Linked DNA regions of Homo sapiens. The protein of the gene in region 1 interacts with the protein of each later gene in a pairwise test. Each region holds a gene or a part of one and is shown on either strand. Other genes may lie near its edges. The genes, in order: BTN2A2, SYT1, TMEM52B and SLC10A6.

Region 1 (7,865 bases):
CAGAGAGAGTGACTTTTATATAAATAGATGATTTTTATTAAAGCACAACTAAATACAGAAACAAAGTTATCTATAATTCCTGCTAACTCCACAGAGAAAGACTAAGAATTTAGCTGGGAAGAAATTGGCAAGGCTTCAGCATAGAAATGCACTTAAACTGGGATTTCTAATAGTTTGTTAAAAGTGACACTAAGTGATTACCTCAGTGTTGCAGTTAGTGTATTTTGCTTTAAAAGGTATATTTCAGGACTGAAAAAAGCCTTTAAGTTGCAGAATAATTCGTGGTGACATTTCAGTCCATCAGACCAGTGGAGGCAAGGACTAGGAAATTGGGTTCTTCCCAGGGGGCCCCAAATCATAACAGGTAGGAGACCCTATCTTTGCTACTCACAAAGGCAACCTTACATCTGATTAAAACAGAATATCGTGGATGGAGGGCTTCTTGACCCATTGTCATGACTGTGTTCACAGCAGCACTGCAATGTTGCCCAGTAATGAATGGTTGTATGTGGCAGGGACCCACTACTCTTTCTCTGTAAAACCAACCCTGTCCTGGCCTTCCCTAGTCTGAATTGGGTTGCTGTAGGACTTTTTGTTTGCTTGCTTATTGTACTCTGTTTGTTGGATTGGTTGGTGGCTGATTTTTCCCTTAAATCTATTGTGTCATGCTTACCCGTATTGAACCCATGGAATGTTTTGTAGGACTTTGTTTTCCAATTTGCTGAGGTATTTTAATTTCTTTTCTAATTCAGGATTTCTGTGTGAGCCTTCAAATGCACAACTAGCTTTTTTCTCCTGACAAAAATTAAACAGAGCAGAAAGCACTAGGCTTAAGTGATTGCTTTAATTTTCTTTCTTTAACATAATTTGTTGGGAGACTTTACAAAGGAATTATTCAGGAGAAGTTTGGATGATCACGCATGGCTGAAGGGTCTCCCAGGACCATGCTTTTGCAGCTCTCTCACTCTGGGTATTCTCTTTCATTGAAGGTTCTAGTAAAGATAGAATATATTTAGGATGAGCCTGAATTATTAGGATTTTTGGTGATGATCTCTGACATTGAGGAGGCAATATGGTTATCTTAAGGATCCCAGGGGCATCCAGATATTTCTAATACATTGATGTTCTTAAAGGACTGTAAGAAAATTCTCTATTGGATGGAACCTCTGGGAGGTAAACAACTGTGAATTAGAATAAGAATTGGCTTTGCCAGCTAGTTCTGTCTATTCTCCTAAAAACCATCACCTCCTATGGAGGTAGATAGCCATGGTGATGTGAGGCCCTGAACTAGACAGAAGTGTCAGTGACTTTGGTTCAAAAAGTTTCTTAAGATTTAGCCAAGGCTGAGCATAGTGGCCCATGCCTGTAATCCCAGCACTTTGGGAGGTCAAGACAGGTGAATTGCCTTAGCTCAGGAGTTTGAGACCAGCCTGGGCAACATGGCAAAACCCCATCTCTACAAAAAAAAAAAAAAAAGAAAGAAAGGAAAAAAAGCTTCTGCCAACCTGATAGGTTTCTGTCATTAGTGTATTATTTTAGAGCTTCAGGAAATTGAGGTCTGCAGAGAAGTCATCCCAGGAGCAGAAAGTGAAATTCTCAACCTGCCTGTTGAGAATTTGGACACACCCTCCTGGAAGTGAGAAAATTAGTCTTTGCCAGAATAAATTGCACAGCAAGCATTTATAGCAGACAGATAGATGCTTGGTGCTGTGATGGGGCCTTCAGGTGGAGCATAAAGAAAAGTGTGCAATGTGATCCTTTCTCTTTGAGATCTCACAATTTATTTTGCATATTGGTTTCCTGATGTTCTCCAAAACCAAGGGTCTTTCTAGCAACCATCCATCAAGGTGCAGTAGGGGCTAAGATACCACTGCCTTTTGGCTGAGCCCTGGTCTCCCTTTCCAGGCCTTGGGTCTAAGCCCCTCATTGAAATCAAGGCCCAAGAGGATGGGAGCATCTGGCTGGAGTGCATATCTGGAGGGTGGTACCCAGAGCCCCTCACAGTGTGGAGGGACCCCTACGGTGAGGTTGTGCCCGCCCTGAAGGAGGTTTCCATCGCTGATGCTGACGGCCTCTTCATGGTCACCACAGCTGTGATCATCAGAGACAAGTATGTGAGGAATGTGTCCTGCTCTGTCAACAACACCCTGCTCGGCCAGGAGAAGGAAACTGTCATTTTTATTCCAGGTTAGTTCTCTGCCCTCTGAGACCTATCAAGTGTATGCAGGATCCTCAGCACCCAGATGGAGCCCAGAGCGGGAATGGGGGCAGCAGTGTGGGTGGAATGGTCCTGGGCCCTGAGGAGCTGGAGGCTGCAGCTGAGTTGAGACGTCTCCCCTCCTCACAAAGGGAGATTCAAAGAGTCCCAAAACACAAGAGTAGGAGCCTCTTCTCTGAGGGTAAACCTGGTCTTTTTTTTCTTGATTAGGTCTTTATGCTGCAACAGTTGTAAAATATTAAGGACAACCATCAAACCTGGAGAGTAGTGTGGGTGGGTGACTGTCTATGCTTGGCATTCCTGTATGTTGCAGCCATCCCTTCCTGTCTATGGGACTTCCCAAAGGACAGAGCTGGGGAAATTCCCTATCAAGAGACATTCATAAATGTATTCAACAAATGTTCAACAAGCATTTCTTATGTTTAAGACTGTACAGGAAACCAAGGGTCAATAATTGAACAAAATATATCAAAATTTCTCTCCTCAAGGAGTTCATATTCTAGAGAGAGACAGCGGCCGGGCACGGTGGCTCACACCTGCAATCCCAGCACTTTGGGAGGCCAAGGTGGTTGGATCATGAGTTCGGGAGTTCAGGACCAGCCTGGCCAAGATGGTGAAACACCATCTCTACCAAAACTACAAAAATTAGCCGAGTGCGGTAGCAGGCGCCTGTAATCCCCGCTGCTTGGGAGGCTGAGGCAGGAGAATTGCTTGAACCCAGGCGGCAGAGCTTGCGTCAAGATCGTGCCACTGCACTCCAGCCTGGGCAACAGAGTGAGACTCTGTCTTAAAAAAGAAAAAGAAAAAAAGGGAGCGCGAGAGAGAGACAGCAATATATGAAATAATTGAAACAAGTGATTAAATAAATAATAATCTATATATTCTATCACATGGTGACGAGCATGTAGGAAAAATTAAGCAAAGAGAAAATAGAGAGTTCCAGGGGTGTGAGGCATCAGAATTATTAACAAGGTGGTCAGGGAAGACTTCACTGTAAAGATGGAAATTGAGCAATCAAGACAAGGAACCATCAGATGCTTAAGGACTGAGCAGCCAAGGTACAGGAAGAGCATATGCAAAAGGCCTGAGGAAGGAGCTTGTCTGGCAGTTTCCAGGACTCCCAGGAGGTGATGCTGGTGTGGCTGAAATGGAGTGAGTTCAGGAAGTAGGGGGAGATGAATTCACAGAGTGATGCAACTACGTTATATATGGCAGCACAGGCCACAAACAGGCTTTGGCTTTTAGAGTGAGTGAGTGGGAAGCATTGGAAGGTTTTGAGCAAATAATTAACATGATCTCACTTGGGCTGCTCTGCTGAGAGTAGATTACAGAATAGAGCAGAACAAGAAGGAGGGCACTCTAGTATTCCAGGCGTGAGTGATGGTGGTTTGAGGCAGGGTGATGGCTGTGCTGACTCAGCATGGCTGGTTAGTTTTATGCACTCTGGTCCTTTCCATGGTGACTCCAGATGTTTCTGCTTTGCCCCCTTCTGGGCCCGGCCCTGGCAGTCACTGAGGTGTCAGCCAGTGTTGAGCCAGCATCGCTTTCTCCATCTAAGGTTTCTGAGGGAGAAGCCAACAGAACAGGTGGCTGAGGAGCTCTTCAGATGTGCTCTTAGGGGCACTCTCATCCAGATGTTCTATTTCAAACTAAATGGACTTTTCTGGCTGCCTTTTCAGAATCCTTTATGCCCAGCGCATCTCCCTGGATGGTGGCCCTAGCTGTCATCCTGACCGCATCTCCCTGGATGGTGTCCATGACTGTCATCCTGGCTGTTTTCATCATCTTCATGGCTGTCAGCATCTGTTGCATCAAGAAACTTCAAAGGGAAAAAAAGATTCTGTCAGGGGAAAAGAAAGTTGAACAAGAGGAAAAAGAAATTGCACGTAAGGAATTTGTAAAGAAAGTGTGGAAAAATAGAAAGAAATTCAAAAAGAAAAGTTAAATGAGTAGGAGGACAATTGACTGTCATAGAAAGGCCACAGCTCTCACAGGTACCGGCTTAGGGAAGAGAGAGAGGAAATGCACAGCAGCAGCCACAAGGGCTTGGAACTCTCATGTCATAAGAAGTAATCATTCAGAGCTTTCTTTCTTCCATGCTGCACACATTACATTCATTCACCTGGCTATATGCAGCACTACATGGCTGAACGAAAGTTCAGACAAAAGTCTAACAATGTACTGATACTACCCAGCCATCTGATCATACATCATTGCTGGTTTCTGACTGTTCCTTAGGCATAAACGAAGGGTGATGTTGGTGTTCATAGAAAGGATGGTTCCTACGTTGTTTAATACAAGCTCAATTTCTCTTAGTTCTTCTGTTGAAGACATGATTTTGTTTCTGTATTTTGTTTTCAGAGCAACTTCAAGAAGAATTGCGTAAGTTTAGCCTTTCCTGAACTACTCCGTGTACAATTTGTGTTCTGCTTACTTAGCAGTGTCTCGTGACATTCACCTCTGTCTGTCCCTTGCAGGATGGAGAAGAACATTCTTACATGCTGGTGAGTGCCTCTGATGTTCTCTCAGATCTCAGCTTTCTCCCCACTAGCCAGCTAACAGGACTCCTTAGAGGAGATGAGCAAGGGGCCCAGGGCTACACAGGGACCATAGGGAACTGGGGTCAGTTCATCAACGGTGTCCCAGCAATGATGCATCATGGCTCTTCTGTCAGGGAACCCCAGCAGCTCTTAATGAACCCTGCAGTTTACATCCCCAGGACCCTTTCTCTTTTGGAATAATTTAATGCATGATTATCAAAGGTTTCCCATGCATAGTAGCCTCCTAAGAGTTACATTTCAGAAGTCATTGCTCTTTGATTCTGGATCAATTTGAAATAAGATAATGCTGTCTTAGCAATTCATATCCTGGGAATGGTATAGACTGTGCACAGTTGAAGACCTATGTGAGGAAAAGGCCATAAGGGTCCCCAGTAAGCCTGATGCAATGGTGTACAAATAGGTGGCCAGAAATACCTTTCTGCCTCTAAGAGAGCACTGATATTCTGCATGTAGTCTGCCAGGGGAAGGGGTTTGGGTGAGTGGGAGGGTGAGTGGGAGAGCACAGAGAAACCAATCGCCCACTTCCAGTGAGTTCTCATCTTGTGATTCGGCACCTCTGCCTGTCAGCACCAAAGAATCCAAACTTTACCAGATACCAGGGCCCATGGACCTTTCCTCTTTGGCGAGTTTCAAAATTGCCACTGTCATTTTGGGACACAATCACAACTTGTCACAATCAGACATATCAACTTGTGGAAAAGAGAAAATCATTTTAATGCAATAGAAAGGTAGACTGAATAAGTAAGAATACATGCAGAAGGTAGAGGTTTGCAGAATGCTCAGCTCCTGGGGCTTTTCCTGTATGGGAGAAGTAATCCTGGTAGATGTCAGACTCATATTGTTAAAGCAAAACTGGATTGAAGTATTTCTTCCCTAACTTTGCCCACACATCCCTCAGGCACCAGGTTTTCTTTTGCACACATTTATTCTCCTTCTTTATCCTTTGAAGTGTGCCCTTGTCAGCCACTTAAATCAGTTGTCACCTATTAAAACAACCTATAGGACCAACGAAGAGGTCCTTCACCACCTAGGACAGTGTGTAATGATAGACTCACTTAATTGATCCATTGAGAGGTATGTGGGGGAACAATAGGAGATAAAGCTTCTGTGATGGTTTAAGCCAAGTTGGAAAGTTTCTAACTAAAGAAAGTCCCAGAGATCATATATCTTGAATAGAAAAGGGATCAGATCTTAGAATGCTGAGAAAAACTGGGAACCATTAATTTTGGCTCATTTCCTAAACTCTCTGGATTTCATAGAGCCACAATTCTTCTCAACCTGGGGGCACTGCTTCTGTCTCTGGAGAGATAGAAGTGCAGCTTCCGTAATTCTCAGGGTATGAGCTGCCTGGGATCAGGGGACCTTCATGGAAACGGCCACTACATGGGGAACCCCCTTCAGCTTTCTGAGACTTCTCTGGGGACCAGGAACCACACAATCCCCAGGGTTCCTGAGACCCCAGGCATAAACCTGAGACTTCCTCTGCAGCTGATGTGGTCCTGGATCCAGACACCGCTCATCCCGAGCTCTTCCTGTCAGAGGACCGGAGAAGTGTGAGGCGGGGCCCCTACAGGCAGAGAGTGCCTGACAACCCAGAGAGATTCGACAGTCAGCCTTGTGTCCTGGGATGGGAGAGCTTCGCCTCAGGGAAACATTACTGGGAGGTGGAGGTGGAAAACGTGATGGTGTGGACTGTGGGGGTCTGCAGACACAGTGTTGAGAGGAAAGGGGAGGTCCTGCTGATTCCTCAGAATGGCTTCTGGACCCTGGAGATGTTTGGAAACCAATACCGGGCCCTGTCCTCCCCTGAGAGGATTCTCCCTTTGAAGGAGTCCCTTTGCCGGGTGGGCGTCTTCCTGGACTATGAAGCTGGAGATGTCTCCTTCTACAACATGAGGGACAGATCGCACATCTACACATGTCCCCGTTCAGCCTTTACTGTGCCTGTGAGGCCCTTCTTCAGGTTAGGGTCTGATGACAGCCCCATCTTCATCTGCCCTGCACTCACAGGAGCCAGTGGGGTCATGGTGCCTGAAGAGGGCCTGAAACTTCACAGAGTGGGGACCCACCAGAGCCTATAGAATCAATTCCTTGGACTCACAGCCATGCAGATAAGCCCTGGCCATCTCAGCAGCCACCGCACAACCCCCCTAATGAAAGACACGCCCTCCTCCCCTCTGGTCACGTAAGAGAACATCTTCCAGCTGCCTTTTTCACACCCACTCCAGCCCTCTGCCCCAGTTTTCTCCTCCTCACTAGTCTGTGGCTTTAGTAGTTCCTTTGCTTGTAATTATGGGATGGGATCCAGGCATAGGGAACTAGTTGTTTCATAGCTCCCAGTCAAAAAGAAAGTGAGAGAAGCTGTTGGGCAGCGAACCTACTGTTTAAAATCAGGATAACCACATTAAGCCCAATATGCCAGTTGGCACCAGATGCTGTGGACTTGGAATGAGGCCAACAGGGTTCACCAGGATGAGAGAGGAGAGAGGAATCCACAGGACCACCAGAAGGGAGAGGGAACCAGATATGCAGATCAGAGATAGAGGAAGTGGAACCAGAGAGCTGGGAGGGACCAAGGTTGTAAGGATGGCTAAGTCCCACCATAAGAGCTAAAGGGTCCTGGGAGATGATGGCTCATTTCCACCCAACCCCAGGATTTCCACAGCACACACCCACAGGCCTGGACCTGGGATGAAGATGAATGAAGAACATGGACTCATGTGGATGTGGTTTGGCTCAGATGTCCCTGCAATAAACAAGGGGTCAGTACTTAGTCCCTGAGTGTGGTTGAGGTTTGAGGTCCTGGTCGAGCAGGGCAGTACTGGACCAGGTCTACGTCAGCATTCAGGTTCAATGGGGACACCAGTGGCTTCAAACTTCCTGATCTAATTATGTTTTTAGACACTTAGAAGTTATTGAGGACTTTAAAGAGCTTTTGTTTATTTGGGTTAATATTTATGACATTTGACATTGAAACAAAAATTTAAAATGTTATCTTTTAATTTATGTTAAAATAGCATTAATAAATCAGTTATAGGTTAATGTAGATAGGATGTTTTGTGAAAAAGCAATCTATTGTGTCCAAA
Region 2 (8,773 bases), on another chromosome or scaffold:
GTTCTTTAAGATTAGATGGCTCTAACTGTTTTGGGAATTTTCTCAAAATCAACTTAATATACTGACATCAAAAGTGATGAACTGATATTATGTTAATGGTGTTATTAGGCTAACAGGAAGTTCAAATTAACTTTCAGATTTCTAACATATTCTACATTTTATTTTATTAATCTTCCAGCTCATCTTGCATATAATTAATACAAGCATATAATTAATACTATTTTTTAGTTTCAATTTCAGTCTAATATGCAAATCGTATAAATACAATGTTATTCATTTTCATATTTGTTGATTAGAACTATCTGATAATTTGACCAGATGAAATAACTAATATTCTCCATTATGAAATGAAGTTCAAAACTACTCAGCAACAACTCTCAATCATGTGGTATTTTTGTGAAATTAGTATTTTAGGATTTTCCCTATATATTAGCAGTCTTCAATTCTGACAAAAATACCTCGAGGCATAATTATCATATTTACTCTGAAACATTAATGAGATTTACTAAAATATCCTGTCAAAGGGAGAAAAAACAAAGATTGTATGAAATTGTGACATTAGACTATTTTGTGGGATAACAAAGTAAGAATTTCCTATAATATATCATGTAAGGTCTCTCCCCAATCCACTCACTATATATTGGAATTAGTTCTGATTTCCAATACACAGATATTGAATTTTTTAGAAGTATTTGAAAAACTACTCATATCCATATTTTTAGATGTTATTTCTATAATTAACATTTGTAAAGAGTCATGAAAATAAATGTCACAAACCAAGCCTAAATTTTCACATATTCCTAAGACAGTGGAGAAATGAGAAAACAAAATCTTAATTTTCTCACATGAAGGCAGCTGGCTTCCTTTTTGTACATCTTTTCATGTCTAAACTTGTTAATTCAGTTGTACATACATGTGAGGTAATTAAGTGATTGTCCCTTTGTCCTTGTAACCAAAAGGTGGCACCTCTAAAAACCAGAGTTAGCTTTCAACAGAGACACTATTTTTTTTTTTTTTTCATTTAAATGTCAAAGCCCTAGAAAGAAAATCGTTTTTCGTGACTTGGTAATTCTATTTAGGGAGAGATCATTGCCTCAAATGCAAAATGGTTTGGAAAATAGTACACATTACACTGATGGCAAATGAATTCAGCTCTTCTCTAAGTTGGTGTGTAAACTTATATATTAAACGTACGTAGTGAAAAAATACTCTCTGAGATACAAAATTAGTGTGGAAGGTCAGACACAGTTAAGATAGAAGATTCTCTTTTCTTATATCAAGTGGAGTTCTAGACAAAAAAAAGTAAGACTCTGCATTTCCCCTGATAAATAAAAAGAAGTGTTTTGTATACTAACATCTGTGGATTTCTCTGTGTTCAGGTAAGACCCACTTGGAATGCTTTCCTATTACATCAAACGAGGCATTTCTCTATACCTCCTTCCATCTGACAGTACTATCGCTTAGCTGTCCCTGAAGAATAATAAGAAAAGAAAGCTTATATCCCCAATGATGGAATTAGAGACTGCTGAAGCTGCTGTAAAGGCTCTGTCCAACAAGTACCATTTACTTGACCTATTATGCAGGCAGCCAGGGGCATGTTGGTGTTTTGATATATTTTTCTTTCTTTTAACAAGACGTTACAAAAATGTTTTCCCCTTCAGGATTTTTAAAATTTAGGGTATCTTTCTAGCATTACTTTCTAAACTTAGTTCCAGTACAGGAGGATTCTTGTCCAACTGAGCCTCCATGTGCCTTCTAAAGGGAGTGCTGAAATTGTATAAACATCATGTTTACATCCATTAAATATTGTCCTATTAAAAGAAAATAAAGCCAGGCATAAGTTTGGTATCCAGACAATAAAATGCAAATAGTACAAAGGTAGAATAAAGTGAAAATTCTACACAAATGTAGCTTCCATACAAAAGTTAAACAGTTGCTTTATTTCACGAAAGGGTTAATACTGGAGAAAGTGAATATCAACATGTACACAAAGCTAACTAGAAGATTAGCTTTCTCAAAGTAGAAATCCAAGCCTCCCTATAAAATTGTTGTCCCTTGCAAATGTTTTGAAACTTTACATTTTTTGATCCCCCAACAACAGGCCATACCAAGAAACCTCAGGAAAGTAATAATCTATTTTAATTGTTTTTTTTTTTTTGTTACTCAAGAAAGCTTTCAAAGTTCAGATATTAACACTGATGTGCAATACCAAATTGTTAGCCCCACAGGACAGATGGAAACAGGAAAAGTCAGATGGTTGGCACTCAAAAGCAAAAGCAATTAAGCAGTTGAAAGTGGGTTGGATTGTCGGTTTATTTTTGTTCCATTTGAACGAATCAAGTGAGAGACATAGACTCTTGCAAGGAGGAAATCAAGTCAAACTTGACGCTTCCTCTCTCTGACAGCCCAAGCTGGACTGGTTGTCTACTCCCCTTATTCAGTTTAATTGCTTTATGTGCTCTGATTTTCGCAGAGCTTGTATTCTATCTTGTTTACGTTCCCCCCCCCCCCCATATCCCTCTCCCCAACAGAAAGAAATCTTTCTCCTTTCTTCACTCCCCCTCTTTCCTCTAAGAAAGGCAATCCTCTCCAGGAGGAGAAAGAAACGCTGTGCGTGCTTAGGGTGGGAGGAGGGCGAGAGGGGAGGTGTGGGAGAGAAAGAGAGAAAAGATTGAGATTGGGGGTGGGGGACGGAGGAGAGAGAACAAGAGAAGGAAAGAGGAAGCAAGAAGATGGGGGATGCCCAACATCAACTCCAGGCTCTAAATCACGGGCGCTGTGCAAAGTGCTTTTCCAGGAGATGCACATGTAGTCTCATATTTCTCACAATAGGCCACCCGGGGATCCCTCCCTAGGTCTCAGACTCCCACCACTAAAACCCAAGTGTATCGAGAAGAAAATCTTTGGGATGGATTCGAGCAGATAGGCACCGCCGAGGTGGCCGCGCCGCCAGTCCCGCTTCCTTACCTGGAGGGCGGACCGGGAGGTGGTGCCGGGTCTCGGTCCCCAGTGCTCTCCCCGCGTGGACCGGCGCGAGGCACACGCGTACTCTCGCTGCCTCCGCTCTTGGAGGGGCAGCCTGCAACACAAAAGGGGTGTGTGGGTGTGGGTGTGTGGGAGGTTTTCCAGGGCCACCAGCTGGTCCCACGTGGTCGCCCCCACCCTACACACACCCCTTCGGGGCGCCAAGCCCCCCTCTCGGCTGAGCACCACCCTGGGGACTTGCCCGGGGTGCAGCCTCAAGTTGCCGCTGCTAACTGCTGCTGCCGCTGCCGCTGCTGCAGGAGGAGGTGGAAAGACACTGGGGGCAGTACTCGGTCTAGAGCATCCCCACACTGCAGCTTCTCCAGGAATCCCTCCAGTGAGGAGGCGGCCGCCCATCATCTCCGAGCCCCAGCATCCTGATTGGCTCCACCTCGGGTACGCTGCGCCAAGGAGCCAATCCCCGCGCACTAATAATAGGTGGATCCGTTCAGCCAACATCGCCCATCCCAGTTCTGTTAGTGTCTCTCCATCCCCACAGCGGACAGGGACCTGGGAAGCGGGGTGGAGGCGGGTTGGGGGAGGGGGTGAAGTAAGAGGGGAACAGATCCCAAGGAGACACAATCAAGGGCGTCTGATAAAACCTCTAGGTAGACTCAGGAATGCCCCACAAGCTGTTCAGCAAGCAGTATGCACAGGAGAAAGAGAGCATAATACAAAGCTTTTTTTTTTTTTTTTTTACTCTCAATCAAAACCTACCCTGATACTGAGCATGCCCAGACTGCAACAGCGACCTAGGAGTTTCGATGTGTGTGGGTTCGCCAGCTGTGGGTTTTTGAAAAGCTGGGACCGGGGACAGGAGAGGTAGAAGTTTGTCTTTGGCCATTTAACCCGGCGGAGTTGTGAAAGCTGGGTAGGGTGGGGATGTGAAAGGGTTCCGCACAAGTGTCCTCAAACTGAGCCGCGGGGAGGTGGCCCACCTGGCTGCCGGAGGCTCATCATGCTGTTCTTCTGGGGTTCCGGGTTGGAAGCGGGGGCGGGATAAGCTGAGCTTTGCTGGAAGCCTGGGGACTTCCCGCGAAGGGTGCGGTGGAGCCGAGATGCGGGAGAAGCAGCTCCGTCCCATAGGTGGGGCCGGGAGCGCGACTCCACCCATCAGCGGCGGCTGCCAGGCCGTGGAGAGTGCACTGGGAGTTTCCATTGCAGCGACCAATAAGTTTGTACACTTGGGTCAAGTGCAACATTGTTGGAGATGCTTTTTTATTTTTTCATTTTTATTTTTTGCCACCTCCCTCCCCCATCTCTCTCGACCCCTTGCCAGAGCAGTGACGACTAAAGCATAGATTCTCTCCCTGCTTCCTCTCTTCCCAGCTGAACCGTTCTGCTCGGAAGTAAGAAGCTTTTCTCTTGTGAGGGCGGTGGTGACCTGATTGTCTCTAAGCTCTCAGGCAATTTATAGCTTGGTAATACCGAAATACCGAACAGGAAGGCTCAGCGGGTGGGGGAAGGGACCGCGCGCCAGGCTAGGGGCGGGAGCGGAGCCCAGCTGGGAGAGGGGCCCGTCCATTATCTGCTCCACAGGTGAAAGGATTTCAAAACGGAGAGAACTATTTCCCTTTCTCCCTCCCTCAACCTCGTTTAAAGGCCTTTGAACCTCTTATTTGTTTTATTTAGAAATCCTAGCATTTTGTGTAAACTTGATCAATAGCTACAAATGAGAACTCTCCTAATTGGGTTCTTTATTTTACTGAGAAGATTATCTTGGCATCTCAGGTAGGGAAATAAATAGCTATCTCAATTCCCCAAACCCATCCACTTTGAACTGGAGTTTTATTAACATTGGTGTGCAAAGGTAAATGTAGCAAGAATTCAATTAACAGTAACACATTTCTTCAAGTTTTTAATTAAATCTCTTCTACTTATGTAATGTTTAAGATTAAGATCCTTATTCTAAGTATACGGGAAAAGAAGGCAACGTGATATAAATATATCCTTCTAAGTGACAAACACTTGTATTTGGGCTATGCTTGAATAATAGGAAGTTTAACATTAGAGGTAGAAGTGTGAAAATAATGCACCCCAGACTTGTGACTTCATGTAAATATTCACTTTCCATTTTCCAAAATAGTCTCCAAACCTTATTTTAAAATCATTTCATAGTTGGAGAAATAAGATAAAAGAATTTGGTCTAAATTTTATTTCAGTTATTTAGTGAAGGAGAGGAGGAGGAGAAGACAGAGAAGGAAGAAAAACGACAGGATAAAAAGTAGAAGAAGTTGGAGGAGGAGGAAGGGGAGGAGAAGGAGGATGGTGAGGTGGAGGAAAAGGAGAAGAAGGAGGAAGAGAAGACGAAGAAGAATTAAGTAACCCTGTAATTTTGTTGTCCAATAAATATCTTTGGATGAGAAGATTATTATAATATCCACTTAATATAGATCTTTATTCTAAATATATGCCTAGCATACTTTCTAGATTCCAGTGATTAAAACTGGCACATTTATCCTATTTACCAATAGCTGCATGTAGAAAAAAAGTATGCTTATTTTAGAATAAATTAGTCAATAGAATACAAATACAGATTTTAAAATTTTTGCTCCAGACACTGATTTTGTCATTAATATTTTAGTCAATTTCTTTTCCTGTTTACTTCACATCTTACCTAGCAATCTTTCTATTTCAGTGGCCAGAATCCTTGGCAACATGAATGGTATCAGAAGTTTGTAACCCAATGTTCCTTGAGGGAGACTGCAGGTTAAAATAAGAAATGGGCTTTACATGTATATTGTGCTTAACTTTAGAATTGATAACATTTTCTGTACATAAATAATAAGAAGACTCTATTTATATGGTGACTGTAGCTATACTAAGATTTTAACTCTCCCTCCTATTCCTAAATTCTCTCCAAGCTCTTGGGAATGTGTTGAAGACGTCCTCCTGGATCTACTGGGCTGACACAACATTATACTTTGCCGCAAGTGTGTATCATCTCTTTGCCTATTGAAGCAGACTCATTTTTATTAAAAGGAAGATCGGGTCAATTGTTCTGTAGAGACAAAGAGAGAGCTCTTTGTCACTCTTATCATTCCATTTCTTAAGTACTTTTACATCTAGAGTACTTTTGCTGTTGAGAATTAACTTATCCCCTGATTGTATGGTATTTTAAAAATATTATTTTCAGAACTTTTACAAAATCTGTTTAATGTTTTGTTTCCTCTTTCTTCGTTAAAAAAGTGTTATTAATTTTTCTTCACATTTTGCTCTGATCAAGATCTCATTTTCAATATTTTCTTTATTCCTTTTTTATTGGATTCATCTATTTACTACTTTCATGCTTCCTTTGCCATCTATTTTAGGCTACAGGATCAGAATAGAAACTAAATTGGATTGGGGCACTGAGGAGGAAAGTGTGTCTTATGGCAAGAGTGGGAATTAGGGACATTAGAACTAGAAATTCATTAAGTGGAAACTTAGCCAAGGTTTCTGTAAACCACAGAAAGAATACTTAACGTGAGAGAGGTATCAAGAAAATTCTGCAGGTTGTTGGAAAGGCCAGAATTACCTGGTTGATCAATGATACTAAAGAGTTACATTTAATCCGGCTGGGCGCGGTGGCTCACGCCTGTAATCCCAGCACTTTGGGAGGCCGAGGTGGGCGGATCACGAGGTCAGGAGATGGAGACCATCTGGCTAACACAGTGAAACCCCGTCTCTACTAAAAATACAAAAAATTAGCCCGTCGTGGTGGCGGGCGCCTGTAGTCCCAGCTACTCAGGAGGCTGAGGCAGGAGAATGGCGTGAACCCGAGAGGCGGAGCTTGCAGTGAGCCGAGATCCCGCCACTGCACTTCAGCCAGGGTGACAAGTGCGAGACTGTCTCAAAATAAATAAATAATAAAAAAAGAGTTACATTTAATTAAGACTCATACATCATTAAACTTTATATCTTTAGTAGCCACAGTAGTTGTCTGGTAAAAGCTATTTATAAATATCATTACCCAGGATTGTTTCTTTAAAAAAGAAAAATAATTGACTTCTCTAAATTTTTCTATTTTTTTGTTTATTTTTTATATAGATGCAGATCTTACTATTCTTTTCACTTTATATCTGTGTTTCTCAAGATACTGACTTTTTGGTCTCTTTGCAGGACAGATAATTAATTAAATGTTTTCTGGTGTCAGAATTTGGGTAGAATTCCAGCTTCACCACTAATTGGCTATGCCACCTTGAAAAATGTACAAAACCCCTCCAAGTCTCAGTTTTGTCATCTAAAATATGTACATAAGAATACAACATTTATCATTAGGTTTTTTTTCTGGATTAAAAAAAGCAGTGCACATAAAGTGCTAGTTCCAAGCACATAGCAAGAACTTAATGACTATTATTATCATTTTATCATTATCATTGCTGCTACTTCTGCTACTACTATTTTTTTTTTCCAGATTTCTGGGTTATTGGGTTTCCTCCCATCATCTCATCCATTTAAGCCAATAGTGAGCCATAGACTCCTCACCTATGAGCATTAAAGGTAGAAGGGTGTTAATTCATGTTATAAGAACTTTTATTTATTTTTTGATGGGAGGAGTCAGTGTCTAACTCTGTAGCCCATGCTAGAGCGCAGTGACTCAATCATGGCTCACTGCATCCTCCAATTCCTAGGCTCAGGTGATTCTCTCAGCTTAGTCTCTTTAGTAGCTGGGACTACAGGTGCATGCCACAATGTTGGGCTAATTTTTTTTTTCTTTCTTTCTTTTTTTTTTTTTTTTTTTGCCATATTGCCCAGGCTGGTCTTGAACTCCTGGGCTCAAGTGATCCTTCCACCTTGACCTCCCAAAGTGCTGAGATTACACGTATGAGTCACCGCGCCTGGATACAGAACTTTTTTAATACGTAAAATGACAACAGTCATCTGTCTTGCATGTAGTAGTCTTACACTGTAATCATCTACGAGATGAATAATTTAGTTTTTAGGGATGGATACTTAAGCTTTTTTTTCATAAAAACATTTGTTTATATTATTCTTTCAAATTAAGAAATATCCAATTCTGGTGGCAAAAAAAAAAATGATGAACACTATTTTGTTTTGTTTTGTTTTGTTTTCTAGAAAATGCTCTTGAAGACAGTAGAGCCATCATTTTTATTTCTCTTCCATTCATCTTTCTCAAGATCATTTGTCCTGGGATTACTGCTAGTGATTTTGTAACCAATTGGTAAAGAAAAAACATGAAGGCTCCTTGTATCAGAATTAGATTAGAAATTAGCTGTGTTGATTTTTATACTGAACATCCATGGAATTTAATAAAGAGACTCTAGAAATGGGAGAAGAAAAAAAATGAATACTGATGGGAGTCAAGTCTCTGGAGCAGAGAGTTAGAGCCCCATAATTGAACGATGAAACTTCACAATTTCCAAAGAAAGGAAAACAAAGAGCTAGTAGTTTTCTATGTGGCTTTACAAAAGCCTTTTCTTAAAGATGTGGCTAAGAAAGTATTGGAAATGAAAAGGAGGACAGTTACTCAAAAAGTAATATACTGTGTCAGGCTGTTGAGGTTAGCAAGGAAAATATCATTTAGGTGAATCTATCTCAGGGGCAAAATAAAAGTAGTTTGAGCTAATGTTAGCTAAAGGTCTTAGAAAGGAAACAAATGATATATGTTTCAAATACTCTATGATAAAAGGAATATACCGTGGTGAAAACTAGTTTGCTAATAAAGCAAGGGCAACATTAAAGTTTACATTAATTCCCTTTGAAATCAGAGGAAGGATTTCTATCTAATTGAACACACAGAGAATTA
Region 3 (7,865 bases), on another chromosome or scaffold:
CTGGCTAATTTTTTTTTTTTTTTTTTTTTTTTTTTTTTTTTTTGAGACGGAGTCTCGCTCTGTCGCCCAGGCTGGAGTGCAGTGGCGCGATCTCGGCTCACTGCAAGCTCCGCCTCCCGGGTTCTCGCCATTCTCCTGCCTCAGCCTCCTGAGTAGCTGGGACTACAGGCGCCCGCCACCACGCCGAGCTAATTTTTGTATTTTCAGTAGAGATGGGGTTTCACTGCGTTAGCCAGGATGGTCTCGATCTCCTGACCTTGTGATCCACCCGCTTCGGCCTCCCAAAGTGCTGGGATTACAGGTGTGAGCCACCGTGCCTGGCCAACAAAAGTGCCTGGCTAATTTTTGTATTTTTAGTAGAGGTGGGGTTTCACCATGTTGGCCAGTCTGGTCTCAATCTCCTGACCTCAAATAATCCACCTGCCTCGGCCTCCCAAAGTTCTGGGATTACAAGCATGAGCCACCATGCCCAGTTATCTTTTTTCTTTTTCTTTTTCTTTTTCTTTTTCTTTTTCTTCTTTTCCTTCCTTCCTTCCTTCCTTCCTTCCTTCCTTCCTTCCTTCCTTCCCTCTCTCTCTTTCTTTCTTTCCTTTTTTATTTTTTGATGGTGTCTCACTCTGTAGCCCAAGCTGGAGTGAAGTGGCGCCATCTCGGCTCACTGAAACCTCCGCCTCCTGGGCTCAAATGATTCTCGTGCCTCAGCCTCCCGAGTAGCTGGGACTACAAGCCCGTGCCACCACGCCCAGCTAAATTTTGTACGTTAATAGGGACGGGGTTTCACCATGTTGCCCAGGGTGGTCTCAAACTCCTGAGCTCAGATGATCTGCCCGCCTTGGACTGAGCCACCGTGCCCAGCCTTGGTTATCCTTTTTTCCTAAGATGACAGTGAGAAAGGGGAGGTAGGAAAGGTGAACAGCAACACATCATATCATTCTATTTTGTTGTTGTTGTTGTTTTGAGACAGGGTCTTTCTCTGTCGCTCACCCAGGCTGGAGTGCAGTGGCACGATCTCGGCTCACTTCAACCTTTGCCTCCCGGGTTCAAGCGAGTGTCACGCCTCAGCTTCCCAAGTAGCTGGGATTGCAGGTGTGTGCCACCATGCCTGGCTAGTTTTTGTATTTTTAGTAGAGACGAGGTTTCACCATGTTGACCAGCTTGGTCTCGAACTCCTGACTTCAAGTAAGCCACCTGCCTCAGCCTCCCAAAGTTCTGGGATTACAGGCATGAGCCACTGCGCCCAGCCATCACTCTCTTTTCAAAATAAATATCCACATTTTGCCAGCTGGTGTTCTGACTGGTACTTGCTCCTCAATTTTAGGAAAGAGCATAGTCCAGGCACAGTGGCTTATGCTTGTAATCTCAGCATTTTGGGAGACAGAGGCAGGTGAATCATGAGGTCAGGAGTTTGAGACCAGCCTGGCCAACATGGTAAATTGTCTCTACCAATAATAAAAATAAACAAATAAATAAATAAAAATTTAAAAAAATATAGCCTGGTGTGGTGGTGGCTGCTTGTAATCCCAGCTACTCAGGAGGCTGAGGCATGAGAATCTCTTCAACCCAGGAGGCGGAGGTTGCAGTGAGCTGAGATTCCCACCACTGCACTCCAGCCTGGGCAACAGAGGGAGACTCCGTGTCAAAAAAAGAAAGTAACCATTTTGGCCAGGCATGGTGGCTCACGCCTGTAATCCCAGCCCTTTGTGAGGCGGAGGCAGGTGGATCACAAGGTCAGGAGTTTGAGACCAGCCTGGCCAAGATGGTGAAACCTCGTGTCTACTAAAAATACAAAAATTAGCCAGGCATGGTGCAGGTGCCTGTAATCTCAGCTACTCTGGAGTCTAAGGGAGAGAACTACTTGAACCCGGAAGGCGGAGGTTGCAGTGAGCCTGAGATTGCACCACTGCACTCCAGTCTGGGCGACAGAACAAGACTCCATCTCAAAAAAAAAAAAAAAAAAAAACCGTCATGGAAAGAATAGAACCACAGAAGAAAAGGGAAAGTGTCTTATAATCATTGAGAAAATGTTAAGGCTAAAATTTAGTGTATCAAGCCTTGAAGAATAAAGAACTGAAAGTACATGTCATTAATTTCTTTAAAAATATAAAATAGTATAGATAATAGAAAAAGTAGATTTCACAAAATCCAAGACGTTTTGAAAAAGGCATCCGTTTGGAGTTCAAAATAGTTTTTAGCAAAGTAACTATTTATAAACTGGCTAATTCTTCCTATTCAATATTTCCAATAGCCTCCAATATTTCACTTCTTTCTTTATCATGAGCCAGACAGACCCTTGAGAACACAGCTTCAGTGACAGCCCAGGTCACTGCACCATCAGGCTTCTGGGAATGGAAATTATTGTGAGTCCTGGAATCTTTAATATTACTCGATCAGTGGTTCTACACCTTTGCACCCTTTTCATTATTCCCTTAAATTGGGTCCTCCTCCCAGGTTAAAAGTTCAGTGTACTCACATGTGATAGTGCTCTGGAGAGTGCTGTCGTGATCGAAAGCAATGACGGTCACTTCACAGGGTGGTGGGCCCCCATCTTCCCCATTTTGCTGGCGGCTCAGACAGCAGCAGCGGAAGCACAGGGACGTCAGGCCACACAGGAGAAGCAGCGCGCCAATTACCACTAGCAACCTGCAAAAGCCCACGGGGCGAGTGGGAGCTCTGGGATCTGGCTTTTTTCCCAGCTCTGCTGTAACCAGTCTTTAATGTCTGTGTTTTGATTCTTGTCTAAACATTTTATAGAATAATTATAAATATTTTAATTTATAATTTTAATTTCAAGGCTTTTGCTTTATAGATACACCTCCTTATTTTGTCAGCTGCAGTAAGTCAATTCATTAGAACAAATAGTAAGACATTTAAGGTAGTTTGGGGGGCTGCTTCTTTTTTCTTTTCTGAGACAGAGTCTTGCTCTGTTGCCCAGGCTGGAGTGAAGTGGCACGATCTCAGCCTCCTGAGTAGCCAGTACTATAGGCACATGCCACCACACTCGACTAATTTTTTTTTTTTTAGACAGAGTTTTGCTCTTGTTGCCCAGGCTGAAGTGCAGTGGCACAATTTCAGCTCACCGCAACCTCTGCCTCCTGGGTTCAATCGATTCTCCTGCCTCAACCACCTGAGTAGCTGGGATTACAGGCATGTGCCACCACGCCCAGCTAATTTTGTATTTTTAGTAGAGACGGAGTTTCTCCAGGTTGGTCAGGCTGGTCTTGAACTCCTGACCTCAGATAATCCACTGTCTCGGCCTCCCAAAGTGCTAGGATTACAGGTGTGAGCCACCGCGCCCAACTTTTTTTGTATTTTTAATAGAGATGGGGGTTTCTTTATTTTGCTCAGGCTGGTCTCGAACTCCTGGCCTCAAAGTGATCTGCCTGCCTCAGCCTCCCAAAGTGTTGGGATTACAGGTGTGAGCCACCACGCCCGGCCAGGCTCTGCTTTTTAATTCACTAAAGTAATCTTCGTTGAGATATTTCTAGAACAGACTCCGAGGGAAGGACACAGTAATGGTTTGATGTTTGCGGAGGAGATGGTATTGAAAAAGGAAATCCTGACATATTGTCACATAGGTAGTGATGAAGTAATGAAATCTTACTCCATGAGATGCTAAGTAAGTAGGCAGGTTGTCATTTTTAATGGCCTTGAGGAATACAGTGTCTTTCTGGGTATTATAAGTGAAACTTACCATATATACCAGAGATGTACCCAGTCTGTGGTCAGGCAACTATAAAGAAAGAATAAAGTTTTCTACATTAAAAATATAGTCAATCCCTGTTATAACTCCAGACTCAGAAATATGAGTTACAATATGATGTGATACCTTGTTATAAATAAAGCACCATGGGTTATGTTTTTAAAATTCACTGTAGCTAGTTGAATCTTTTGCCAAATGATATGCTTTAAATAGTACTTTATACTATAGATGGCATTGTCTGAGTCATTTTGTAAATCATTATAAAACAAACTAGTGATCATTAGAAGTGTCCATAGAAAACATGTCTGTGCCTATTGCAAACATTTATGATAAAAATGACCAAGAAAGGGCCAGGTGCGGTGCCTCATGCCTGTAATCCCAGCACTTTGGGAGGCTAAGGCTGGCAGATCACGAGGTCAGGAGTTGGAGACCAGCCTGGCCAACATAGTGAAACCCCATCTCTACTAAAAATACAAAAATTAGCCGGCCGTGGTGACGCCATCTCAAAAAGAAAAAAAAAATACTAAGAAAGAACTTGGAATGCAAGTTTACAAAGAGTAACTTTGAAAATGGATGTGAAACTTAAGGCTTGTGTATATTTGAGGTCAATAAAATGTAAACATAAAGAAAATTTCAGTTATGAGTATGAAAGTCATACAATCACATTTGTAATTTATCTTTTGCAAGCTGTTGCAACACTCCCACTGAGAATGTAGGAAAAAAAAAACTTAGTTTCTTCCTGCTATACTCTCCCAACCCTCTGACACCAGATGTGGGTGGGTGAGGATTTCCGCACACACCAGGCAAGCAATCTTCCAGCAACAGACAACAGCTGAGCGTCCTCTAATTCAATTCAATGCCAACACCACCTGCTTGGAGATAGGATCCGATCCCATAGGGTGAGGACTCAGTCCCCTAGACGGCTCCCCAGAATTCTGATGCCAATCACAATTTGTTTTGCCTGTGCTTCTGACCTACTGGTTATAAATTGGGGGTTCCCTGACTCCCTCTTGAGGTTGCGTTAATTTGTTAGAGCAGCTCACAGAACTCCGGGAAACACTTACTTACATCTACAGTTTATTACAAAGAATATTACCGAGGATGCGGATGAAGAGATGCGTAGAGCAAAGCATGTGGGAAGGGGCACGGAGCTTGCAGGTCTTCCGAGTGCACCACCCTTCAGAAACCACTGCCTGTTCAGCTTTACAGAAACTCTTCAAATCCATCCTTTGGGATTTTCATGAAAGCCTCATTATGTAGGCGTGATTGATTAAATCATTGGCCATTGATGATCAACTTAAACTTCAGCCCCTCTACTTTCCTTGGATGTTGAGGGGTGAGGCTTTAAGCATTCTGCATTGGTCCTTCCAATGACCAGCCCCATCCTAAATCTACCTAGGGGCTGCCAGCCACCAATCAACTCATTAGCATGCAAAATGATGCTACTTACTTTGGGGATTTTAGAAGTTGTATGCTAGGAGATAGGGACAAAACCAAATATATATTCTCACAATATCACACCCACCGTAAAGAGTACCCTAATTTTTCACATCCAGGATCAAAACTAATTTGCATATCCACTGAGACCAAACAGGAAGAGGGAAAAAAGTAGAAGCCAACTTTACCATGATGAAAGCTAAATAATGTTCTGAGTTCACTATGGCAATTGTAAATTTTCTCTGTAAGAATGAAAAAAAAATAGGGATTGTATGGGAGAAGGAGAAGATAAGTTCAGGAATTGGAGAATGAGGGGAGGCAAAATATTTGTGTATCTTTGAAGAGTAGTAAATTTTGTTATTTAATAATTCTTTCTGATACAGGAATCTACTGAAATCTAGTGAATCTATTTTTATTCTCTGGTCACACATTTATAGAAAATATAGTTTTGTTTTGTTTTTCACTGAACAATGACTCCTCTTGGTTTTCCCACATTTCTTACTTGTTGAAAACTCTTCTAGTTCTAATTAGACTCTGGTTTATAGGAAAGGACTCTTCCTATGGTGGAAGATGTGTAAAACCTCAGAAAGCAGGTGTCAAGTAGTCAACACCCAATTTGCATGTGACAGGTAATCAAGGCTATCACCCTTTCCCTGGGTTTAACAGACCTGGCTATTGGGAAACCCTTCCCATGGCTAAATATGTATTTTTCTTCATCCTAAACACGTTTTTATTCAAAGTGCCACTACTTTTTAAAATTTGTATTTTACAGTTCCTTTAAGTGGAATGATTCTTTTGCATTTTTATCTTCATGTCCTCTGTGTCTACATAAGACTTAAGTGTGACAGGTTTGGATTAGTTGATAACTACATCAAAGTGATAGCTAAATGAAGTCTGCCCAATAAATGTTAACATGCCCTAAAAACTAGAAAATACTTTCCCAATTTAAAGTAATAATGTTACTTTGGAAATCACCCAAATATATATGCCAGTGACTAGATACTAAACCGTCTGTCCTGGTGAGTCACTGAGGAGCAGGGCTAAGGAAGTCTTTTGCAAGTCTCTATGACTGTATAAGTTGAGATTAATCGTGCTGCTTTGATGGGAAGATTGGCTTTGGGTAAAAACATGCTGTCAGCAGTGTTATTTTGAGTGCTTAAGATGACAAAAACACGTCTTTATTTTGTGATAAGTCATCTATGAGATCTATTACTTAAGTAAAAATAAATAAAAAGAAGTCATAGATGTCTAATGACATCTTGACTCTCTTTTGGGGTAGTGATGTTTTGGTCTGTTGCTCCTTCCTCCCAGCTTGAACTCTATACTTACTGTTCAGGATTACCACAGTTTTCCTCACATCTCGTCCCAGAAAGCTGTAGAAAGAGAAATTGTCTTATACAGGGAAATTGTTTTGGCCACTGTGTTCAGCTGCTTACCAATCATCTCTCATGGTTGTGCTGTGTTAGATCAAGCAGTAAGAAGGTCACGGTCATAGGGGCAGTCTATTTAGGACTGCCATTTTCATCTCTCCCATACTTGCTGGCTTTTGTACTTGAGGTAAGGGAACCTTGAAGAACAAATATCTCATCTGTTGTGTTGATGGTGGGTGAGCATCACCCTTTGTGAATGAGAGGTAGCCATTTACATTAATTTGTTTGTAGTAGAAAATTCCTGATCTCTCTGTCCCTTGGGATATTGCCATTGTCCTCCTAATTCCTGCCCAGTTGAATTCTACACCACTGCTCTTTTTTTATCCTGTTAGTGTGACAATGACTATACAAAGGAAGAAGGGGAAAAGCGAGGGGGCCAGTGGGACAGAGAGTCTTATTTATCGAATAGCTACTAGATGCCACTCAGACTGCTAACAAGTTTTTTTTTTTTGTTTTTTTTTTTTTTTTTTTTGAGTCTTGCTCTGTCACCCAGGCTGGAGTGCAGTGGCGTGATCTTGGCTCACTGCAACCTCTACCTCCCGGGTTCAAGCAATTCTCCTGCCTCAGCCTCCCGAGTAGCTGGGACTACAGGCACGTGCCACCACGCCTGGTTAATTTTTGTATTTTTAGTAGACACAGGGTTTCACCATGTTGGCCAGGCTAGTCTCGAACACCTGACCTCAAGTGACCCACCCACCTCCGCCTCCCAAAGTGCTGTTGGGATTACAGGTGTGAGCCACCGCGCCCGGCCATGAACTCTTAATATTTCATAACATTTAATCACAATAACCCTCTTGGTGGGTATATTTAACCTTATCTTGAAAGGTTAAGGGACTAAGGCACAGGGTTTTAAGTAATGTGACCAGGCCAGGCGTGGTGGCTCACGCCTGTAATCCCAGCACTTTGGGAGGCCAAGGTGGGCAGATCATGAGGTCAGGAGTTCGAGACCAGCCTGGCCAACATGGTGAAATCCCGTCTCTACGAAAAATACAAAAATTAGCCCGGCGTGGTGATGTGCGCCTGTAATCCCAGCTACTCTGGAGGTTGAGGCAGGAGAATTGCTTAAACCCGGGCAGTGGAGGTTGCAGTGAGCCGAGATCATGCCACTGCACTCCAGCCTAGGCGAGCAAGACTCCATCTTGGAAAAAAAAAAAAGTGACCAAATGTACACACCTATTGATGCAGACAGAATTCAAATCAAACTCTATCATAGATATGTGTTGGATGAATTAATAGCACTGGGGACAAGTTTGCTCTAACAATTCCTTGACATTGCTATGAAGTCCCTTCTACTCCCT
Region 4 (7,865 bases), on another chromosome or scaffold:
TTTTATATTTTTCTGTGAAACTCCCACTTGTGCGCCAAACTATCCTGTCTATGTGCCTTATCGTCCCCAGAAATGTCAGGCTTTCAAAAAGTGTATCACAGGGGCAGCACATGCAAGTTTGGATTGAAAAAAAAGTTGGTAAGTTGGGGTGAACAATTTCCCGTCAGTTATTTCCTACCCAATGGGTGTTCACCCACCTGCAACAATAAGAAATCCATCTATCAGCTGGAAGAGTCCATAGGCCAGTGGGAAACTCAACATCTGGACCAAGTGCTCAGCAGTGAAAGATAACTGGAGCATGGTGATGCACATCTGAATATTCTGAGCTCCAGTTTCTAAGGAAATTGTCCTGCACCTACCAAAAAGAAAATGTTTCAAGAGTAACGCACTAGCAATAAGAACTATTCTAATATTTTCTCATATGCATCATAACAATTAGAAGCTATGACCTCAGGCCACTGAAAATGTGTACTCATTCCATAGTTATTTGCTGAGTGCCTATTCTGCAGGTGGTCTTCTGAGAGGCACGGTGGAGTGAGGCTTTGCAAACCCTGCCCTAGGCATCTGAGTAAAAAGACAAGATAAACACACAGGAGAGGTTCAGCAACAACACAAGACAAAGTATGGCCAAAGGCCACGCAGATGTAGAAATTTAGAAAATGGCAGAAGGGGTGAGAGAAGGCTTCACAGAGGAGTGGGATTTAAGGATGGAAAAAAATAGAAGAAGCTTTTGATGAGGGGGAAATATTATAAAAATTAAAGTTCCAGGGAGAGGTGTGAGTGTGGCCTGTTCAGCAGGCATTGCATATACTGTAAGCCAATCTGCAGAGAGGAGAGGACTGGAGGAGACAAGAATGGAAAGTTGAGTTAGAGATATGATGCAGGACATGGTGGCTCATGCCTGGAATCCCAGCACTGAGAGGCAGAAGCGGGAAGATTGCTTGAGCCAGGAATTCAAGACCACCCTGGGCAACAGAGTAAGACCCTGTCTCTACAAAAAGAAAAACGTATATATATTTTTGAAAGACATATGAAACAATATAAACTAACCAACACTTAAAAACAAATAAACAAGGCCAGGCACAGTGGCTCACGCCTGTAATCTCAGCACTTTGAGAGACCAAGGTGGGTGGATCACCTGAGGTCAGGAGTTCGAGACCAGCCTGGCCAACATGGTGAAACCCTGTCCCTACCAAAAATACAAAAATTAGCCTGGCGTGGTGGCACACGCTCCTGTAATCCCAGCTACTCGGGAGGCTGAGGCACGAGAATCACTTGAATCCAGGAGGCAGAGGTTGCACTCCAGCCTGGGCAACGAGGTCTCAATAAATAAATAAATAAATAAATAAATAAATAAATAAAAACACAAAAACCCTGAATAAAGACCAAATTCCTAAAATGATTATCTTTGGTGAAAGAGTTTGGTAATAATTTTTCTTTTTGCTTTCTACTTTTCTATACTTTATTGGTTTTCTGGTTGCATAAAATGAAGTAAACCTCATTTGAAAAGACAAAGGAGGGAATAGAGGGAAGACCTGGGCAGGATGTTGAGGGCTGAGTTAAGCAGTTTCACGTCTCCAGTTTATAAAGGGAGCCTGCAGTGTTTTATATGTGGAAGTGAGGAGATAAAAGAGGTGTTTCAGAAAACAAACAAGCACCTCTGTGCAAGCTGGACTGGAATGGGGAAGTAACAAGGGTGTGTAATGAGGGGGTGAAAATGCTGTCAATGGTACAGGGCAAGCTCTGTGTTCATACGTTATTTCTACTTATTCTATTGCTTGCTACACTTGTCTCAAACCACCCTCACTTCTTTGAGACTTTTGTCAAAAACTCGATATGATTAAGCTACAAAGCTGGAACTCACACCTGCACCATTCATGAGCCAAATCTCAGTCCTGGGCTTTGTCAGGCTATCAGGTATGAAAAAGATGGGATTGTGGACTACATCTTGCCATAGGAGTACTTTCTGTCCAGAGCCAATTGCATTTCAACCACTCAACAGACTGTGTTCCTAATTGTTAAATTTGGAAACAAACCCAGGTCCAAATCCTAACTCCACAATTTTCTAGCTCTATGAACTTGGTCAAGTCACTTAATTTCTCTGAAGGGTCTGCTCATCAGTAGAATGAGGGTAGTGATAGGATCTACTTCTCAAGCTTGTAGTAAGAAGTAAATGAGATAGATGGGGTAAAGCTTTACCGGGCGCTTAGTACAACCCTAAATGTTCCCCAAGTGGATTAGAAGTAGCATAAAGCCAATTAAAAATTCCCAACTTTCACCTTTGGAATTCAACTGCATAGTTTACTCTTCTTTAGTAATTTTTTTCTGCTTTTAAAAGTAGTACATACTTATTGAAAAGCTTCAAAAATATACCAAGGAAATACTAAAGAACTAAAATTATCCTTAATTTCGCTACTCAAAATTAAACATTGTTACCATATGGTGTATTTCTTCCAGTATATTTTGATGCATAGAATTCTTTTTGCTTTCTTCTACGAAGTGGGAATCAAATCATGTCGTTTTCTATTCTTTTTTAACTTAAATTTATCTCTTCCTATCAATTTGGCCTTTGCTTTAATTTACATAAAGAATTACCACAATATTTTCCATGAATTGCCATGAATGACCCTCTTTTATGCTTAGTTATCCTGTCGATTCCACTATGTAAGTCAAAACTCTTCATGTCTCCTGACACAGGCAGCAAAGCCTACCAGTGGCAGTGTGTTAAATTTACCTTCCTCAAAAAAGTTTATGGATAGTTTAACTATACCTTTGCCAAGACTGGTGGGTAAAAAGTGCCAGCAGAAAACCCGTGACATGGCCAATCAAAGGAAAGATGAAACTGATGGTCAGAAGGGTGATGTCTGAATTCCAAGATCCTTTCGCCAGGACCACACCAGCAACTGCGACCACCAGAAGGAGGACCCCACCAACAACGGCCCCAATCTGAAGCAAACAATAAAATAAGTGAATATAAACTCAGGGTTTTTTGCTCTATGATACAAAGTCCATCAAGGTTGTAAAATGCTTGGGATCTAGAAATTTTAGAACAAAGAAGGGACTTAGAGATGACTAAATACAATTTCATTTAGTAGAGGAGAAATCTGAGTTCCAAAGTGGTCAAGTAACTTGCCTATGCTAGAAATTGGTGGAGTTTGACACAAATCTAAGTCTCGCTTTAGCATATCTACCTTTCTCTTCAAGTAGAAGATTTTGCCAAAAGGATTGGGTAGTAGAGTTCTATTGTGGGTAGAACAAAAGTGTAAAATGAATGGAATCTGACAATGAGCTTCCAACACCCCTGCACACACCTCTATGACCCTCTGCTTGTGACCTCCAGTCTGACGTCTGCCCTGCCTGACCATCTGCCTCCCCTCCCACCGCCCCTTCAACCACCAGCAGCTGCCTGCTGCTTTGATCCCTGTCCTTCTCCCCTCCAAATAAAATTTACCCATTCTTCATTGGACAATCTGAGCTAATACTCATGATCACATGAGAAATACTGATGGAGACCTCTATCCTCTCCCAAATGGATACTGTCCTTACTTTTGTTGTTTAACAAGAACAGAAACAAAAGCCAACAATAACAAAATTTTGAATAGTTTGAGATTTAGATAAAATAGGAAGAAAGCATAACCTAGGGTATTTTGGGAAAATCAGGATCTTGGCAAGCTCCTGTTCATATCATGTAGACAGTAAACTGTGTACCTAGTTACAGTGTCAACCTTGATTTGAAATGATTCAGGATGTGAAGGAGGATGGTCGTAGGAAACTAGAGAAGACAACAAACAAACAGAATGACCCAATATACCATAAATGTGTTCTGGGGGTCATTTTTACTGTTCAAATACAGAGACAGACTAGACCCCTGCCTAAGAAAAAGATGCTAAGACAAGAAAGCCTCTTGGTCAGGCATGGTGGCTCATGTCTGTAATCCCAGAACTTTGGGAGGCAGAGGTGGGCGGATCACCTGAGGTCAGGAGTTCAAGACCATCCAGCCAACATGGCAAAATCCTGTCTCTACTAAAAAATACAAAAATTAGCCAGGCGTGGTGACACATGCCTGTAATCCCAGCTACTCAAGAGGCTGAGGCAGGAGAATTACTTGAACCCAGGAGGTGGAGGTTGCAGTGAGCCAAGATTGCGCCACTGCACTCCAGCCTGGGTGACAGAGCAAGACTCCGTTTAAAAAAAAAATGAAAGAAAGAAAGCCTCTGAATGTAACATCCCCTCTTCCTCTCTCTACCAAAGATTTCAAAGTTTAATATCCACCAAGAGCAAATGGGGAACACTTAAGTTTGTTCAGAAAATGTGTCAGATCTAAAATTAAAATGGAACTAAGGCCTCTGAATGTAACATCCCCTCTTCCTCTCTCTACCAAAGATTTCAAAGTTTAATATCCACCAAGAGCAAATGGGGAACACTTAAGTTTGTTCAGAAAATGTGTCAGATCTAAAATTAAAATGGAACTAAGAACAGGGAATGAAGATATACTAAAATAATGATTACATTAGCCTAGTTTTTTTTTTTTACTAAGGTAGTCTAGAATATTTATGCATATTATTAAATGTTTTGCCATAAATCCTATGAAATACCCAAAAGAAAAGAGTTTTAAATTTGCTCGTTACAGAAAATAAAACTGACATGTAAAAAAATGTATCTGGTTTCTCCATTGACACTGATGGACTGATAGAGGAGCTGGAAAACTCCAAAAGCATTATTTTTGTTATTGTTGTTAAATGCCCTTTTAAGAAAAATAATCAAAGATAGAGTACTTGAAAAGCAAGAAGTTTCCATGATCATTTCCCTCCTCTTGTTTTGTAAACAAAATCATAACTACCACACTGGAAATTTTCTCCTACTGAAATAACAATAATAAATGTGGAAAAGGGGCCAGGCACAGTGGCTCATGCCTGTGATCCCAACACTTTGGGAGGCCAAGGCCAGAGGATCCCTTGAGGCCAGGAGTTGCAAACCAGCCTGGGTAACATAGCAAGACCCTGTCTCTAAAAAAAAAATCTTTTTATTAGCAGGGCAGGATGGTGCATGCCTGTAGTGCTAGCTACCTCAGAGCTTGAGATGGGAGCATCATTTGAGCCTAGGAGATCAAGGTTGCAGTGAGCTATGATCGTGTCATTGCACTCCAGCCTGAGTGACAGAGCGAGACCCTATCTCAAAAACTTAATTAATTTTTAAAAATAAATGTGGAAAAGATGGGACTTTATTCCATGAGTACAGCTAAAAAAGGAGAGTGAAAATCAGGTGTGCACTATTGATGTTAAAGTCATCCATATGCAATACAAATGTACTATACTAAGCCATCCTCCAGCTCTCTGTGCCCAGCTGATTTTCTGCTTGGCAAGCCCTCTCCTCTCATTCTCCATCGCACTGAAGGAATGGTGGGAATGGTTTGGCCTTGTGCATAACTGGGAAAACAGTGTCCATTAGCACAGGCATATAGAGTGGCAATGTTCTGTGAGGTAGAGCCAAACGGCAAAAGCTTAAACCAAGCCAAACCATAAACCAGAAAACAAAATTAACTGAGATTTACTACATGAAACTCTAAATAACCCCAAATGTTTACTTCTTTATAAATGTAAAATATAACTGAAACATTTTTAAAATCTTCATGAAAGCCACACATATTACAACCTTCTATCTGCTAAAGTGATACATAATCAGAAAAAAAATGGAAAGCACCCTAGGAGACTCACACCATTGTTAAGAATGCCTCCTCTTTACGTTTTGTTGTTTTGTTTCATTTTTTAGAGATGGGGTCTCACTCTGTGATCCAGGCTCCAGTGCAATGGCATGATAATGGCTCACTGTAGCCTCAACCTCCTGGCCTCAAGCAATCCTCCCACCTCAGCCTGCCAAAGTTCTGGGATTACAGATGTGAGCCACTGCACCTGGCCTCTTGAATTATTTTTAAAAGCCATTTAACAAAGACATTTGCTTGTTTCTCCAGCAGACAAAGGGCAGGACTGCAAAGACAAGAGGAGGTAGAAAGTTCTAGTCACCATCATTCCATAGCTAGACTCCTCAGTGCTTCCTGGATGATTTCATTTAAACAGTCTTATTCATGTAGTCAGCAGCCCTTGCTCATGTGTACAAACAACAGCTTTGGCCGTGACCCCAGGAATGCTTCTGCAAGACAGCCCTTCCTCCTACTCTTCCAAGAAACCAGCCATATTACTAAACACTGGGGTTCCCTTTCATGCTCACTTGAACAGCTTCTGCCTCAAGAGCACCTGTGTGAAGCCTTGTTTATGGATGGGCCTGGGCTCTTCTGTCCACACACAGGCTTTAGCTTTCCTGACACTAAATCAATAGTTGCTTATTTTCCAGGGCGTCATAAGCCTCAGGGTACAGAACTATGGGAGTGGCAAAGCAAGGCTTACAGGGTGGAGGAAATATGATCCCTGGATCCAAAACCACAGGATGTGTAAGAAGAATTTCTGGGTGTGGGGCCGTACTCAACAAGCTCACTTGTCCCAGCCACTGCTCACTTCTGTCTTTCAGGCCCCTGAGTCTGAGGACGTGCCAACAGTGGCCATGAAGTCACTCACCTTGAGAATGATTTTGGATTGTTTTGGCCATCTGTAATTCACATAGACACCAAAGGCCACAGGAATGGTCAGGCACACAAGGGTAATTCCTAAAGAGAAGAAAAATCCATGAGAGGGTTTTCCCTCTCACCCTGACTGCACAGTACTTCCCAACAACTTCTATTTCAATTAGGTAACAGCTTTAAACTGACATTTTCCCATGCCACTTCCCAAGTCTGGATAAATGCCTACAATATTGGCTCCAAAGTTATATAAGCTGCTCATAACATTTTGCGTCTTGTGAGTGCCTTTCAGAACATATTATCAAAGCAGAATATATTAAATAACTTACTGATCAGAAAAAAAGTTGCACATAAAATCATGGTTTCTAAATTAAGGTTTCCCTCAAATTTTACAGATTCAGTGGGCTCCCGCTATTGTGAGGAAGTGGGTTCATTCATGGTTTTGAACTATGGGCCATGGGTTGTAAGCCTTCAAGGTGTTTACCTGAGACACCAGATTGACACTGAGAGTCTTAAGAATCATAGTGTTGGCCAGGCACGGTGGCTTACACCTGTAATCCTAGCACTTTGGGAGGCCAAGGTGGGTGGACTGCCTGAGCTCAGGAGTTTGAGACCAGCCTGGGCAACACGGTGAAACCCTGTCTCTCCTAAAATACCAAAAAAATTAGCCGGGTGTGGTGGCCTGCACCTGTAGTACCAGCTACTCGGAAGGCTGAGGCAGGAGAAGGCAGAAGTTGCAGTGAGCCGAGATTGCACGACTGCACTCCAGCCTGAGTGACAGAGCAAAACTCTGTCTCAAAAAAAAAAAACAAAAAAACATAGTGCCTATCACTTTTTCAAAAACTGACCACACTAGAAAAGGCAGATCATTTCACCACATTTCTCTTCTAAGCTTGCTAAACCCACAGAGATCTTTAGGAAAATGGCAGACTTTCATGAGAAATAATATTCAGAAGAGGAGATAATGAAAGAGATATGGGTGAGACTGTGACATGTAGATGAGTTTTCATAATCAGTAAGAATTATTTACATTCAACCTCCAAGAAAAAGTCAAGGTTCGCAGGCAATGTGAAAGGTGAAGTCACAGGAAGGTCTAATTAGAGCCACTAGATCCAGTTAAACCTTGGAGTATAAAGAGTCCAATTGCTTTATAGTCTAATTACATAAGGGTTTGATTCCTGCTTTTTCAAAGTAAATTATCTGGCTTTCTTTTTTTTTCAAAAATGCACTCTTATAGGGATGAAAGTTTGCACTTTGTAGTCAGATTCCCGGGTTAGAACTCCAGTTCCGTACT

What was found.
Region 2: the proteins of BTN2A2 (region 1) and SYT1 interact in binary tests that used the Homo sapiens proteins (3 or more experiments, as listed by UniProt).
Region 3: the proteins of BTN2A2 (region 1) and TMEM52B interact in binary tests that used the Homo sapiens proteins (3 or more experiments, as listed by UniProt).
Region 4: the proteins of BTN2A2 (region 1) and SLC10A6 interact in binary tests that used the Homo sapiens proteins (3 or more experiments, as listed by UniProt).

What each region holds. Positions count from the first base shown.
Region 1 is NC_000006.12:26,386,108-26,393,972, forward strand, and holds part of BTN2A2 (butyrophilin subfamily 2 member A2 isoform a precursor), read left to right. Parts: intron 1-1,905; coding exon 1,906-2,187; intron 2,188-3,897; coding exon 3,898-4,104; coding exon of another isoform or gene 4,105-4,163; exon of another isoform or gene 4,164-4,579; coding exon 4,580-4,600; exon of another isoform or gene 4,601-4,695; coding exon 4,696-4,722; exon of another isoform or gene 4,723-6,038; coding exon of another isoform or gene 6,039-6,188; exon of another isoform or gene 6,189-6,267; coding exon 6,268-6,860; 3' UTR 6,861-7,865. UniProt on the Homo sapiens protein: Inhibits the proliferation of CD4 and CD8 T-cells activated by anti-CD3 antibodies, T-cell metabolism and IL2 and IFNG secretion.
Region 2 is NC_000012.12:78,859,304-78,868,076, reverse strand, and holds the start of SYT1 (synaptotagmin-1), read right to left. Parts: upstream 3,304-8,773; 5' UTR 2,968-3,303; intron 1-2,967. UniProt on the Homo sapiens protein: Calcium sensor that participates in triggering neurotransmitter release at the synapse. May have a regulatory role in the membrane interactions during trafficking of synaptic vesicles at the active zone of the synapse.
Region 3 is NC_000012.12:10,181,195-10,189,059, reverse strand, and holds part of TMEM52B (transmembrane protein 52B isoform 2 precursor), read right to left. Parts: intron 6,511-7,865; coding exon 6,467-6,510; intron 3,731-6,466; coding exon 3,692-3,730; intron 2,641-3,691; coding exon 2,471-2,640; intron 1-2,470.
Region 4 is NC_000004.12:86,825,223-86,833,087, forward strand, and holds part of SLC10A6 (sodium-dependent organic anion transporter), read right to left. Parts: intron 6,659-7,865; coding exon 6,570-6,658; intron 2,947-6,569; coding exon 2,771-2,946; intron 356-2,770; coding exon 198-355; intron 1-197. UniProt on the Homo sapiens protein: Transports sulfoconjugated steroid hormones from the extracellular compartment into the cytosol in a sodium-dependent manner without hydrolysis.